Regions from separate parts of the Homo sapiens genome. Here all the other regions are linked to region 1. Evidence: fine-mapped expression QTL. A gene starts in region 1. Each other region holds a variant in brackets. All regions are shown on one strand. Distances are from middle to middle.

Region 1 (2,670 bases):
GCTGGGATTACAGGCGCGCGCCACTACGCCCAGTTAATTTTTGTATTTGTAGTAGGGACGGGGTTTCACTATGTTGGTCAGGCTGGTCTCGAACTCTTGACCTCGTGATCCGCCCGCCTCGGCCTCTCAAAGTGCTGGGATTACAGGCGTGAGCCACCGCGCCCAGCCGGTAAAGTACTTTTAAAACTACATGCCTTATCTGAAACTTCTATTTTTCTATTTTAGTTTATCTTACTCTTGCTTGTTTCCCAAGACTCGGCTTAGACACCGTCACCTCCCGGAAGTCTTCCCTAAGCTCCTTCACCGTACCTTCCTCTCATCCTCTATACATGCAAATCATGCTAAGTGCTGCTCCTAGGTGGCCCCCGTAGTAATGTACTTATTACACTACGCTGCAATTCTCTGAGGTCCTGGAGAGCAGAGGCCGGTTCTAATTGATCCGGAATCCAGCTGGGCATGCAGGCACTTATTCCGTGTTCCTTGACTAAGTGCTCAAGGGGTGACGGAGCAGCACAGCACAGCGGTGTTGGGGGAGCCAGGGGCAGTCACCGCTGGGGTACTAAAGTAGAGACCAAGCTATGCACGACGATGGAGCAAAATGAACTAGAGTGCCCGCAGTCAGCCCTCTCTAGGGCTCCACTTTTCCGCAGGCCCGGCCCACCTACTGATTCCTCCTCTCTTTTCGTGATAGCCTCGCCCCTCCACACCCACTCTTCCACTCCAAGCGTCTCCTGGAATCCATGGCCCCACCCCTTTCTCGCTCGTCTTTCTTCCGGCTCCATCTCTCCCAAGCCCCGCCCTTCTGATCTTTCCCTGCCTGTAAAAATCGCCTCTCCTTAGGTCCCGCCTTCTGCCCTCTGGTTCCACCTTTCCTTCCCGGGCTCCGCCTCCGCCCTGCCGGCCTCCACCTTCCCAGAGGCCTTCGCCTATGACACGCCGGAGTCCTTCTGAGGGGCGGGGTTTACGTACGAAGGGACGGAACCAAGAGGAGAGGCGGTGCTCCTCCCTCGGATAGCCGTCGGCGACCCCGCCCTTGCGTTTAGCCGTTGCCAGGAAACAAGCGTCCTTGCTCGGGTTTGGTCCGGCTCAGCCAATGAGCTGGCACGCCATTGCCCAGTCGTGCGACGCCGGGCGGTTGCGTGTGGTGCGCGGGGGCGCGGGCTGCGTGTGGCGCGGGGCGGGGCGCGGCTGGTGCGCTTGAGAAGCGATGGCGGCGGCCTGAACTCACCTAACACCGCAGCAGCAACCGGGCCCGGCCAGGTTCGGCGTTCCGTGAGTGAACGGTACGCATGGGCCAGAGGGCCTGGAGAGTCGTTTGTGGGGATGAGAGACTGGGAAAAGACGGTGACGGGTTTGGTTACTGTACTGGTTGTGAGGGGTTGGCAGGTGGTGAGGGTCCGGGTGTGAGTGTCTAAGATAGGGAAGGAGGGTGAGAGCTTACAGGTGAGTGGACAAATGAGGGGCTGTGAGAGGCTGGGTGCTTTCGGAGGTGCCAAGTTGAAGGGACTCCTGAACGCGGTTTACTAGGGCTGGGGCTACTGAGGGCTGGTGTGAAGGATACCCTGGGACTAGAGTGAGGGGTAAGGCCTGCGCGAGGAGAGAGAGAGTAAAAGGCGCAGGTGGGAGCCTGCGGGGTGGCGGCAAATTGGTGAGGGAGTTGAAGGCGAGGCATGGGAGGAGGGAATTAGGGCTTGTGAGACTTGGATAAAGGTGAGAGGTTGGTTCTGAGGCCTCCTTCGATGGACTGCCCTGTCCAGTGAGAGCAATAGTTTTAGACAAAGTAGGGCAGCTTAGATGGAAGTGTTGTGCACCTGACTCCTCTGCTCCCATGGACTTTCCATATTCTGGAGGACGAGAAAATGAAGGTGTCATAGGCAATAGTACTATGGTAATGAAAGTCATATTTGAGGCTCAGACTTCAACAGAGTAATCACAGAAACTTCAGTTCCTTCGAGTTCCTTCTCTGGACTGCATAGTTGAAGATGGGCCCTCTCATGAAGGGTTTTGCGCTGTGACAGCTTGTGTTTTCTCTCTACTTGCTTCTGGACAACCTTATTCCACTGTTGCTCCTTACCTGTGCTTAACTGTGGGTCTTTGATTGGATTGACCATATTCAGTTGCTAATTCTACTTTTATGGAGGTCATATGGTTTGCCCTATACAGTACTATATTTAGGATCCCAAACAGGATGGCCTTACTCTCCTTTCTTACAGTTGAATTTTTTAAAAAGCTAGTTTATATTATATTTAAAATGTGTGTTTGATGAGTTTTGACATGTGTACACATCTGTGAAATCATCATCAGTCTCAAGATACTGAACATTTTAGCCACCTGAAAATTTATCTCTTCCTCTCCACACCCTGTAGTTGGGTTCATCTTACTAGCATTCTTTTAGGTCCTCTTCTCCCCACCAACCCAAATGCACGTGAAATTCTGGAAAGTTGGTTTGGCATTCAGTGATAATGGCCACTTTCACACTACTAAATTTTCCTCTCTACTGCTAGTCAGCCATGGGGTTGGGACATCCTATTCTTTCCAGACTCAGAAAGAGTTAAGTCTTTCCTTAACTCTACAGTGGACAGGGAGAGACCATTTCCTGAGAATTAGACAGCCTCAGTCCCCATTCTTTTCCAGAGTCTTAGCTTCAGAGCCAACTCCTATATCCTGTGG
Region 2 (2,670 bases), 36 kb after region 1:
GGGATGAAAATAACATGATCCACACCCCCAGACTCCCCTCCGATTGTCCCCTCACCTCCACTCTTAGGCTCCATTGTTACCACTGGACATTACAACGGGCTTTTTCTGAATGTGAAGGTTTCCAGGAGTCGGTCTCTGATCTGCTTGGTGCGGGCCCCATAGATGAGGGGGTTGAGGGCAGGTGGCAGCAGCAAGTAGATGTTGGAGAGAAGGATGTGCACAGGCTTTGGGACAGTGTGATGACCAAAGCGGTGTGTGAGGTAGGAGAAGAGACCAGGTATGTAGAAGGCCAGAATGACACAGATGTGAGAACTACATGTACCAAAGGCCTTGGCATGGGCCTCCCGGGTAGGTAGCTGCAGCACAGCATGGGCAATGAGTCCATAGGAGCCAGTGATACCCAGAATATCCATACCTGAGATGGCCAGTGAAAGTGCCAGACCATATAAGTTGGTGGCCTGTGTGTTACCCACCACCAGTTCTACCACTGCCATGTGTGCACAATAGGTATGGCCTATGGTCTTGGCTTGGAAGTGCTCAAACTTTGCCACCAGCAGTGGGAAAGGTACAACAATAGCCACAGCTTTCAGTGCCAGGGCCAAGGCTGCATAACCCACACAGGCTTTGGTGACCAGGACAGGGTAGTGCAGTGGACGCCCTATTGCCGCAGCACGATCACAGGCCATGGCCAAAAGCACACCTGATTCCATGGCAGTCAGTGCATGTACAAAGAACATCTGGACCAGGCACACAGCATATGGCACAGATCGGGGCCCAAGCCACAGCACAGCCAGCAACCCTGGGGCTATAGATGTGGCTAAGCCCAGGTCTGTGGCTGCCAGGATGGCCAACAGTAGAAACATGGGCTGGTGCAGTGTGGAGTCTATCCACACCACTGCCGGCAGTGCTCCATTGCCCAGCAGGGCCAGCAGATAAATGGGCCCAAAGACCAGTGTCAGCCAAGTCTGGGCACTTCCTAGCCCTGGAAAGCCAGTCAGTATGAAGAAGTTTGGGTGTAGGAAGGTGGAATTGAGTTGTAGAGTTTCTGCCATTCTGTGGTGGGCACAACTTG[A/G]GGGCTCATGGGGGCATGACTCCTGACAGGGAAGATAAGGGGAGAGATTTTGGGGGTCTCACAGTGGCACAAACCCATCCATGGCATACGTGTAGGAGTAGTGCAGGGCTGGGAGGATCACAGGTTTATAACTTTTGGTTAGGGGGGTTTGGATGGATAATTAAGGTCGCAATTCTAGCTAAGATAGGAGAATCCTTTGCTCCTAAAAGTCTATATGTATTGTAGTGGGAGGAAGGGGTAGTGAGGAAGAGGCTGCCTGCTGCAGTGGTTGGTATAGATAGCCTGAGAGAGCCTTCTAATTGGATGTCAGCAGAGGGTGGAGTGGAGATGAATACTTTTCTTCCTCAGGGTCCAAATAGAGTCAGTCTCAGTCTCTATATGAGGAGAAAGCCAGTGCTGGGGGCAGGGTGGGGAATCAGGCTTCCGGCTGTCCTGTCCCTGCCTGTGTATCCTTGGGCAAGATCTCTGGACCTCAGCTTCTTCAGCTGTATAGGCCTGGTGGGTACAGTGATATTAAGGTTTGCCCAGCTCTGAGCAATTGCCCATTCTCAGCACCAACCATCCAGGAAGAGAGGAGGCAGAGTATAAAGAAAGGGAGAAACCGTAGTGGGAGGCAGATGGAATCTGGAGTGAATCTGGGAGCTTGGTGTGGCAAGGGAAAACTTGCTGGGTTTTTGGGGTGCAGGGTGCTTACGTTCTGAACTTGATGCTGAACACCAGCTGGAGAGTTGAAGTTGGGGCTGGGAAGCAACAGAGAGAGAGATGGCAGTACGAAACGGGACTTTTCTTCTCCGTTTCCTTTCCTTCTTCACGGTACAAAAGTGGGTCCCACTAGAGTCTCATTCCTGGCATGCCAGAGCGAGTGGAGGTGACATAGAGGGAGAAAATGGCACTCAACTCAGAGTAGCAGCCATCTGAGGAAGAAGCATCTCTGACATTGGAGGAGGCAGGACAAGTAGATTGACTTAGGTGGGATCCAGCCCACCTAAGAAGCTTAATACATGTTGAATGGATAAATGAATGAGGAAGAAATCACCAGCAGAAGGCTTGACTGGGAAAGATCTCGAGCACTGTGTGTTGGCAGCTTCTCTTCGCTTTAATCAGTGCCTGTGGGGCTCTTTATGTGGCTGTTCTACCTGCTTCCCTCAGGGCCTTTCTCCCTCCCACCTGTGCCACATTAACTCTGTTTTGTATCTCTTTGCTCAGTGCTGATGGGCTGGTGACTCAGGAAGTAGAGTAAGGAGGCAGAGATGGGGGCAAGCCAGGAAAGAGACTATCAGGTGGAAAGATCTGGGCAAGGAACACTTTCTCAGGGAGGTCTTTGCTGGCTCACTGAAGTCCGGGAGAAAATTCCTTGGTTTATTCTTTAATAGCATCTAGCCCACTCTGTTGTAATTTCTTGTCTCTCAATTCCCCACGAGACAAAAAGAGTTGCAGATATTGCTTTTTATTAGCTACAGTGTCTCTACTGCTTACCACAATGTCTGGCATGTAGTTAGCTATGAATAAATATATATTGCTTTTAAGTGTGGGACAGACTGCTAGTCCAAACAGCTTTTGCTGACTAATAGGGGCTCCTACAGTTTCAGGAGCTTTAG
Region 3 (2,841 bases), 24 kb after region 1:
TGTCCTTTTTTCCATTTCCTCAGAACCCTAAAGGAGAAGTCCAAGAACCTAGGGGGTGGGGGAATCTCCCCTCTCAGTCCAAGGGAGGTTCCCTGATCCCAGCACCTTCATGATACCCCTGTTTATTCCCAGTGAAGAGCCGGAGGCCATCCTTGGGGGAGTTACTCCTGCGGCATGCACACAGTCCAACCAGGGCCCGGCAGGCGGCACAATTGGTCCTTCAGCCTGGGCGAGACGGAGCAGGACTTGGCCTAAGTGGGGGCTCCCCTGGGGCTTCAACTCCAGTTCTACTCACCCGGGGCGGGGCCCCTGAACGCCAAGGTGAGGCTCTTCGAGTCAAGAATGCTGTCTACTGTGCAGTCATTTTCCCTGAATTTCTCAAGGAGTTGGCTGCCATCTCCCAGGCTCATGCCGTCACCTCGCCTTTCTTGTTGGAGACTTCAGAGGAAGGATCTGGCCCTCTCATCTCAGGCTGTGGGCCCCTCAATCCTTAACTTTCTTCCATGGACAATCAGGGCCATGGGTGGCCCGGGCTGGGGCTAGGGCACAGGCTCCTTTTTATGTTTGGAGGCAGTGGCAAAAGGACTTTTTAATTTATTTCAGATGAATGTTTTATGGAGAACTTGTTGCAATATGTATAAAAGGGAAATCTCTATTCTGTGCTCATTTTTCTTTCCCATTTTTTTCTGTGGGGCTGGGGCCCCAGAAAAGGTTGTACATAGTCGGGGAGGTGGTCAGAAGTATTTTCTCTTTGGTAAGGACATTGCTGCCAAGGTTTCAAGGTACCCCTTATGCCCTTAGAGGGTGAAGGGACTCTTCCCTCTTCTCTGGATCCCAGAAGGAATAAGCAGCATGGGCCCAGGATGGTTTGGGGGAGCAGCAGCTGATGTTTATTAGAGACCAGTACCCCTATGCCAGATCTTGGGGGCTTTGCCCCCGGAATCTTTTGCTTCAGCTTCAGTCGTCACTGTCGAACTCTGAGGATAGACCCTGCAGCAGGGGCAGGGACATGGAGTGCCCGTCGGGGTCCCTGGGGCCCCCACCCTGGGCTCCTGGTGGAGGGCTGCGGGGGCTGAAGAGCCAGTTCTCTGCCAGGGTTGGGGATAGTCACAGCTTGACTCATGGCTGGTCTTTTCCCCCCC[T/CT]AGCTTTTCCCTCTGGTCCTCTGTGCCATCCCAATCCCCTTCCTAGGGCCTCCTCATTCCATCTCACCCTCCCCAGTCTCCCTCATTCCATCTCTTTCACCAGAGCCCTGTGCTGAGTAATGGATTCCTCACATACTTAATTCTCATGCCTTCTCCCTCCTTCACTTTGTCCCTCCCATCCATCTCATCATCATTTCCCCTAGTAGTACCTGACAGTATCTGGGGCCCCCTCCAGAAGGGGTTTCGGCCCTTGTAGGAGAATCTGGTGGGTTTGTCCTCTGGCCCTTCCTGGGGAGGTGGCGTAGGTGGGGCTGGGACAGGTGGGGGCACATCAGCAGCTTCAGTTGTATCAGCAGGTGCTGATGTGGGGGCCAGAGGCGGCATGATGCTGAGGTTGGGTCTGACCCAGTTGGCCCCATGGGGCAATGGGTCTTTAGTGAGAGGCTTCTGTGGTCCCAGCACGCCCTTAGACTGCAGTGAAAACTTGAGGCAGGAGAAGGCAACAGGTAATGACCGAAGTAGCCGGAGGAGCTGGGGCTCACGGGCTGTAGACGTCAGCCCCAGCTGCAGCCAGGAACAAGAGAAGACCTGGTAGATGACATAGATGCTGTGGGTGCTTCGGAGCCAGGGAAGAGTCTGCTGTAGGCTCACCTGCCCTGGTGGCAGCAACAGGAAGGCAACCTTCTTGCGCAGGTCACCCATATGTAGGCGGATCTTGCAGGGCTGTCCATCCAACATTCGCGTCTCTTCATAGGCTCTCTCTGCTCGGCCATTTGGTGAGTATTCCCGAGTGCAGTGGGCGAAGGCACCCTCAGATCCTGCCTGCTCCAGGAGGCTTGGTAGTGGCCCCACTGGTTTCAGTGCCCTCCGGCCCTGCCGACCTGGCAAAGCCAGGCGGGTATGGGCTGGGCGGGACTGTTTTACCAGCACACCCAGTAGGTCATAGCAGGCTGCATCTGACAGGAAAGGTACTGCTACTGCATTGGGCCCAAAGTGCTCCTCGATGACCTGCAGGTGGCCAGTTTATAGGTCAGGGACTTAGGGTCAGAAGTTAACTGGTTGCCTACTTTAAATTGACCCCCAGGTTCACGTTCAGTTACATCTCTATAATGTGTTCAGATTTATGCTTTCTGCTTACCTCCCAGCTCTCCGGCAGCAAAACCTTGAATGTTTACGTGTCAAACTATCTAAGTACTGGGAAAACATAAAAGAATGAGACTTTGTCTTTGTCCTAATATAGTTTAGTCTACTGGAGAACACAAAAATGTAAACAGTCTGCTATGTAAAATATTAATAGAGAGCAAGGTGTGAAGGAGACAGGAAGTGATTGAACAGTCTTTACCTTTCATGGAAAGAGGATCAAGGAAGGTTTCTAGATGGTGATACTTGAGTTTTGAAGCAATTATCTAGGTAGGAGAATGGTCAATTCAGGCATAAGAGTCGGTGAAAAAACTTGAATTTACAAATCAAGGGGGGCACATTTAGGAACACATAATTTTATATTGCTGGTATGTATGGTATGAGGAGGGAAAGGCACACAGGAACTAGATTATGAAAGGCTTGTGTGTATGTCAAGTGAATTTTGTCCTGAAGGCAGTGGGAAGCCGCCTGAAGGCCTCTGGGTAGGAGGAACAGGATCAGATAGGTGTTTCTGAAAGCTAATTTTTTTTTTTTTTTTTTTTTTGAGTCGGTTCTCCTT

Which allele goes with the higher level. Positions count from the first base shown, and alleles are read on the strand shown. Sizes are in standard deviations (SD) of each study's normalised expression. Not every link is listed here.
For the expression in prefrontal cortex of the gene that starts at base 1,191 in region 1, allele CT in region 3 goes with a higher level than allele T (moderate effect, 0.48 SD a copy in BrainSeq).

Evidence for each region. PIP is the estimated chance that this variant, and not a neighbour inherited with it, causes the effect.
Region 2: its variant is the best candidate, but not a certain one, in a credible set for the expression of FHIP1B in whole blood (TOPMed, PIP 0.61).
Region 3: its variant is the best candidate, but not a certain one, in a credible set for the expression of FHIP1B in prefrontal cortex (BrainSeq, PIP 0.69).

What each region holds. Positions count from the first base shown.
Region 1 is chr11:6,233,157-6,235,826 of GRCh38, reverse strand. It overlaps FHIP1B (FHF complex subunit HOOK interacting protein 1B), which reads left to right and starts at 1,191. Exons shown (of 12, transcript NM_001098794.2): 1 at 1,191-1,283. It also overlaps a transcript of CNGA4 not described here. RefSeq lists enhancers at 777-856, 254-944 and silencers at 987-1,286, 1,467-1,516.
Region 2 is chr11:6,197,606-6,200,275 of GRCh38, reverse strand. OR52W1 (olfactory receptor family 52 subfamily W member 1) reads right to left here and starts at 1,052. Exons shown (of 1, transcript NM_001005178.1): 1 at 90-1,052. The coding sequence starts at 1,052. The coding sequence ends at 90. RefSeq lists enhancers at 237-737, 738-1,238. The variant A/G (reference allele first, on the strand shown) is at 1,073.
Region 3 is chr11:6,209,159-6,211,999 of GRCh38, reverse strand. C11orf42 (chromosome 11 open reading frame 42) reads right to left here. Exons shown (of 3, transcript NM_173525.3): 2 at 1,352-2,150; 3 at 865-1,088. The coding sequence ends at 958. FHIP1B (FHF complex subunit HOOK interacting protein 1B) reads left to right here. Exons shown (of 12, transcript NM_001098794.2): 12 at 133-655. The coding sequence ends at 494. Among named protein-coding and RNA genes, the nearest start is that of C11orf42, 5.0 kb to the right of the region's middle. The variant T/CT (reference allele first, on the strand shown) is at 1,143.